2 linked regions of the Homo sapiens genome follow. The protein of the gene in region 2 interacts with the protein of the main gene of each other region in a pairwise test. Each region holds a gene or a part of one and is shown on either strand. Other genes may lie near its edges.

Evidence for each region.
Region 1: the proteins of FBN3 (region 2) and C11orf58 interact in a two-hybrid assay, tested with the Homo sapiens proteins (one large-scale study listed by BioGRID and IntAct).

Annotation. Positions count from the first base shown.
Region 1 is NC_000011.10:16,748,569-16,752,396, reverse strand, and holds part of C11orf58 (small acidic protein), read right to left. Parts: intron 1-3,828.
Region 2 is NC_000019.10:8,064,741-8,067,414, reverse strand, and holds the end of FBN3 (fibrillin-3 precursor), read left to right. Parts: intron 1-1,154; coding exon 1,155-1,496; 3' UTR 1,497-2,013; downstream 2,014-2,674.

The sequences.
Region 1 (3,828 bases), on a different chromosome or scaffold from region 2:
TCTTCTTTATGCCTTTCTTTGCTTATCAAGTTTATCAGAGCAACTTAAAAGTTTAAAGCAGCAGTTTCCAACCTTTTTGGCACCAGGCACCGGTTTTGTGGAAAACAATTTTTCCATGGAGGGGGGTGGTGGTGGTTTTGAGATGATTCAAGTGTATTACATTTATTGTGTACTTTATTATTATCACATCGTAATATATAATGAAATAATTGTACAACTCACCATAATGTAGAAGCAGTGGGAGCCCTGAGCTTGTTTTCCCTGCAACTAGACGGTCCCATCTAGGGGTGATGGGAGACAGTGACACCCTAAGTGTGTTGCTTATGTCCAGTCTACTCTGTAATCTTGTTTGGCTGCTGTCACTACAGAAAACCCTGTTTCACAAAGACAGGAGGTTGGAAATGGAAGCAGGCTTTCCAGTGCTTTCGTGGCAATCTCAGGATGTTCCACTTTGTCTTTAATCCAGAATGTATGGAGATGTGAAGTTGTCTCAAACATACTTTTAAGGGCAACATCATTTGTGATCTTAAGCAGCTGATCCTCTTCTAGCATGAACAAAGTCGATTCACCTGGCTTATTCACAAATGGGTTGTGAATCCATTCCTTCCCAGTTCGGGGCTCTTTCGTGGCTGGAAAATAATACTCAAACTCTTTGAAGGCTGAGATAGGTGATCATGTGCCAGCTGGGAGAAAAAAGGTCCTGGCTCAGTCTCTTTTAAAATCTCTGCTAATGTTTGAAACATGTCAAAAAATCCCAATGTTCACTTGTGGCCCCCATAATACTAGTCTGGCTTTGAATGCAGCCACTCTATCTGCCAACTTGAACACAGTTTTGTTCTCCCCTGAGGTGACAGATTGAATATGTCACACAAGTAAGCAAGTTTTTTTTTTTTTTTCGAGGGAGTCTCGCTCTCTTGCCCAGGCTGGAGTGCAGTGGCATGATCTCGGCTCATTGCAACCTCTGCCTTCCAGGCTCAAGTGATTCTCGTGCCTCAGCCTCCCGAGTAGCCGGGATTATAGGCATGTGCCACCATGCCTAGCTAATTTTTGTATTTTTTAGTAAAGACGAGGTTTCTCCCCTTTGGCCAGACTGGTCTCAAACTCCTGGCCTTGAGTGATCTGCCTGCCTTGGCCTCCCAAAAGTGCTGTAATTACAGGCGTGACCCACCATGCCTGGCCAAGTAAGCAATTTTGTGACCCAATTCTGTGTCAACGAAATGTGCTGCCAGTGGTGACTTTTTCTAAAATGAAATCTCTGGAGCAGCTATTGTAACTGAAAAACAGTGGCCAGTGATCTACCTTTAGGAAGCCGTCTCTCTTCTGTGTATAAGAGAAGACGTGTGCTCTGTGTCTATCTTCTCACAGAGCTACATGAACAGATGTGAATTAAGGGCATGTACTTTAATGTGGTTGAAAATTTTAAGCACATCCTACAAAATGGTAAGTTCAGGTGGCATTTTCCAACTAGCCAGCATCTCTACAGATGACACAGTACACAGACTCACATTCAGAAGCAAGCTCTTTGACCTGAGTAGTGAAAACAGAAAGCCGTCCAGTCATGGCAGCTGCTCCATCCCTGCATATATCGATACAAAATGACCAATTCAGTTTTCCTGATATGTATTTAAAGACTTGAATAGTTCTGCAGCTGTGGTGTTGGTTGAAAGCAAAAGTGCACATAATATATCCTCATGCACATCCTCCTGAAAAATGTATCACACAAAAACAAGCATTGTTGCCTTGCTGTCAACACTGGTAGACTCATTAACCTGGATTGGGTACCACAGTGACTCATTAATTCTAACAACTGTGCCTCATATCCTCTATTAATTCATCTAGCTATGGTGCTAGCCAGAAGAGGAACATGTGCCACCTTTTGAACTGCAGGCTCTCCTAAGAGTTCACAACAGATGTCCTTAGCAGCAGGCAGGATCAACTCTTCACCAGTAGTAAAGGCCTTCTTAGCTTTAGCAATGTGATTAGCCACTAAGAATGATGCTCTCACTGCAGACACATTTGATGAAGTGGTGGCCTTCAATAATTACTTCTGTTCTTTGCGTTCACGATTTTTTCTTTTGAAAAACTCCAAAGGCTTGTCTTTTAATGCAGGGTGTTTGGTCTCCATGTGGTGAAGCACTTTTAAAGGTTTCATGGCTTTTCTGGATAGCTGGTCATCACATATTAGACAAAGCAGGTTTGGAGAATGTGAATCACCTATTGCAATGAACCTACAATTTAAGTAGGACTCTTGATATTTTCTTTTAAATGCCACTTTCTCTTTGTTGGCAGTATTAGAGTCTTCTGCTGTCTCATCATTGGGTCTTTCCCCCTTTTCAAAGAAGCTCTCCAAGGACGTTTGTTTTTTTACTCATTTTGGCTAGGGTTAGCTTGTGGGCTTACCAAAACTGTGACTGAGACAAATGCACAGTGCAGGAAAGAGACATGGATGGAAGTGGTAAATAAGTAATGGGCAGGCCACATGCAGATTAAATGTCAGATTCTGACTTAAAACCTGCCACTAGATGCAGCTTGTTACTTGCCACTCACTGAGAGGGTTTTGATATGAGTCTGCAAGCAGTTGATTGATTACGGTCTCTGTGCAGTCAAGCCTCTCTGCTAATGTTAATCTGTTTTTGCAGCCACTCCCCATTACCACCTCAGCTCCAATTCAGATCATCAGGCATTAGATTCTCATAAGGAGGCACAACCTAGATCCCTGGCTTGCACAGTTCACAATAGGGTTCATGCTCCTATGAGAATTTAATGCTGCCAATGATCTGATAGGATGCGGAGCTCAGGTGGCCATACAAGCCATTGGGAGCAGCTGTAAATACTGATAAAGCTTCTCTGGCTTGCGTGCCACTCACCTCCTGCTATGTGGTCCAGTTTCTAACAGGCCAGGGATGGGTACCGGGGATTGGGAGCTCCTGCTTTAAAGCTCTCAGTTTTAAAAGAGTAAATGTGGCAGTTGAAATATTTTTCCATTCTGCAAAGTTCAGGAATTGTTTTTTGCCTTATGTAGCAATACAAATCAATTTGAAGTAATTGTTTAACACTAGAAAAATAAAAGATCTATGAATTTCTAAAATGTGCTACATATGCTGTGTTAGCATAATTTAAATAACTTAAAGTTTTGTTAAACATAATCTAGGTCAATGTGTCTTTTATTAATATGTGCCTTTTATTACTAATGTCCAAGATTAGGGTCAGTTTTAAATAGGCAAAAATTTCACTTTTCAGCACACCAAATACCCAAATTCATTTTCAGTTTTTATTTAAAAATGTTCTTCCCTAAAATTATTTTAAAAGCTTATTTCTTTAGGCCCTGCAACTAGTTTATATTCTTCAAAGATTTTAAAACAAAATTTAGTGAATACACAAAACCAAATGCCAACTATGACATTATATGCTAATATACAAAGAACAAAAATTCTGTACATACCAGAGTTAACAAGTTGAGGCATAAAACCTCACTACAATTAAAATATATGTTCTGAATCAGTAAAAATGGAGACAGAAAAAGGTTAGTTTCTTGGTTAGAATATCATAATGACATATACTCTCTCATCTTTTAAAAATCAAAGTACATGATAATTGATACTTTATATATGTAACATGTTTACCTATTATACATTTCTAATTTTTTTTTTTGGAGACAGAGTTGCACTCTGTCACTCAGGCTGGAGTGCAATGGTGCTATCTTGGCTCACTGCAACCTCCGCCTCTCTGGTTCAGGCAATTATCGTGCCTCAGCCTCCCAAGCAGCTGGGATTACAGGTGTGAGCCACCACACCAGGCTAATTTTTTTTTTTTTTTTTTTTTTAGTAG
Region 2 (2,674 bases):
ATGGCTCACGCCTGTAATCCCAGCACTTTGGGAGGCTGAGGTGAGCGGATCACTTGAGGCCAGGAGTTTGAGACCAGCCTGGCCAACATAGTGAAACCCTGTCTCTACTGAAAATACAAAAATTAGCCAGGCATGATGGCAGGCACCTGTAATTCCAGCTACTTGGGAGGCTGAGGCAGGATAATCACTTGAACCCAGGAGGCAGAGGTTGCAGTGAGCCGAGATCGTGTCACTGCACTCCAGCCTGGGCGACAGCAAGACTCCATCTCAAAAAAAAAAAAAAAAGAAAAAGAAGAAGAAACAAAGAAATCCTGTCCTCAAGCAATCCTCCTGCCACAGCCTCCAAAAGTGCTGGGATTATAGGCATGAGCCCCTGTGCCCATCCTATTTTTTTAGATTGAGAGGGTACAGGTTTGTTATTAATAAATGGATATATTGCATGATGAGGCAGTTTGGGCTTCTGCTGATCCCATCATCCAAACAGTGAACATAGTTCCCAATAGGTAGTTTTCCTTTTATTTATTTATTTATTTGTTTTGAGACAGTCTTCCTCTGTTGCCCAGGCTGGAGTGCAGTAGCGTGATCTCAGCTCACTGCAACCTCCACCTCCCGGGTTCAAGCGATTCTCCTGCCTCAGCCTCCCAAGTAGCTGGGACTACAGGCGCCCGCCACCACGCCCAGCTAATTTTTGTATTTTTAGTAGCGACTGGGTTTCACCATATTGGTCAGGATGGTCTCGAACTCCTGACCTTGTGATCCACCCGCCTCGGCCTCCCAAAGTGCTGGGATTACAGGCGTGAGCCACTGCGCCCGGCCTCCCAACTCTTGTCTCCCTCCCTCTCTCCCTGCTCTAGTAGTCCTAGTGTCTGTGCTTCCCATCTTTATGTCCATGGGTATGCAATTTTTAGCTCCCACTTATAACTGAGAACATGCCGTATTTGGTCTTCTGTTTCTGCATTAATTAGCTTAGGATAATGACCTCCAGCTGCATCCACGTTGCTGCAAATGGCATGATTTCATTCCTTTTTATGGCTCTTTCCTTCACTTTAGAGATTGGCCAGAATCTCCTCTTTGGCCACAATCCGAGGACCCCCTACCCACACCACATCCCGATTCTCCTGGGCTCTGACCACACACCTGGCCTTTCTTCCCAGGTGAACCTGGCCACCCTTGACTCCGAGGCCCTGCTGACCTTGGGCCTGAACCTCTCACACCTGGGCCGGGCCGAGCGCATCCTGGAGCTCCGGCCGGCCCTGGAGGGTCTAGAGGGCCGGATCCGCTACGTCATCGTCCGCGGAAACGAGCAAGGTTTCTTTCGCATGCATCACCTCCGTGGCGTCAGCTCCCTGCAGCTGGGGCGGAGGCGGCCGGGGCCTGGAACCTACCGGCTGGAGGTGGTGAGCCACATGGCAGGACCCTGGGGTGTCCAGCCAGAGGGGCAGCCAGGGCCATGGGGCCAGGCCTTGAGGCTGAAGGTGCAGCTGCAGTTGCTTTAGTTGGGAGGAGCCTCAGTGGGCCCCAGCTGTCCAGAGAAGGGGGATTCTGGAACTGGGAAGGACTGATCCCCAGAAGCGATGGCTGACCAGATTGAACCCCGAAACTCAGGAAGAGTGAAATGCTACACGACAACCTCAGGCAAGCCCGGCCTCTGCCTGGGCCTCTGTGCCAGCCCCGGGGGCCCCCCAGTTACTCAGTCTTTCCTGGAGACAGCAAGAAGCTGCAATGTGCAATCCCCCTGCCCCCACAGCCAAGGTCAGGAAGAGGCCCTGTGGTCACCGTGTCTGGCCAATCTCAGGCTTTCACTTCTGTACTGCACTGTGGCTTGCCCTGGCGGGGGGCAGGGGGTTGGCAGGACATGGCAATGGGCAACTGGGGTGGGCACAGGGCTTATTCCTCGGAGTAGAAGGGTGTACAGGGGGCCCAGACTCCACAGTGACTTGCCACATTTGCCCCCCATTTGGAGAATGCTTTTATATCAAAAGTGGAGACGATAATAAAGTTATTTTGGGTTAAGTCTGCCTGCCCTTTGGCAAGTTCTTGAAGTAAGTAGATGCTGCCCTTGGACTGGGCGAGGCAGATCTTGTGCCTGGGGAAGCAGAAGGCCTTATGGGCTCCCCAGAATGGTAATAATGGCTCACGCTTCCTGACCACGTACTACATACCAGACACCATTCGATTTTTTTTTTATTTTTTCTGAGGCAGGGTCTTGCTCTGTTGCCTAGGTTGGAGTGCAGTGGCGCGATCGTGGCTCCCTGTGGTCGCCACTTTCCGGGCTCGAGCAATCCTCCCACCTCAGCCTCTCCCAAGTAGCTGGGACCAAAGGTGCACGCCACCACACCCAGCTAATTTTTTTAAATTTCTTTTTCTTTCTCTTTCTTTTTGAGACAGAGTCTCACCCTGTCACCCAGGCTGGACTGCAGTGGCGCTGTCTTGGATCACTGCAACCTCTGCCTCCCGAGTTCAAGTGATTCTCGTGCCTCAGCCTCTCGAGTAGCTGGGACTACAGATGTGTGCCACCATACCTGGCTAATTTGTGTATTTTTAGTAGAGACGGGGTTTCACCATGTTGTCCAGGCTGGTCTCAAACTCCTGACCTCAGGTGATCGGCCCGCTTCGGCCTCCCAAAGTGCCGGGATTACAGGCATGAGCTACCACACCTGGCCTAACATTTATT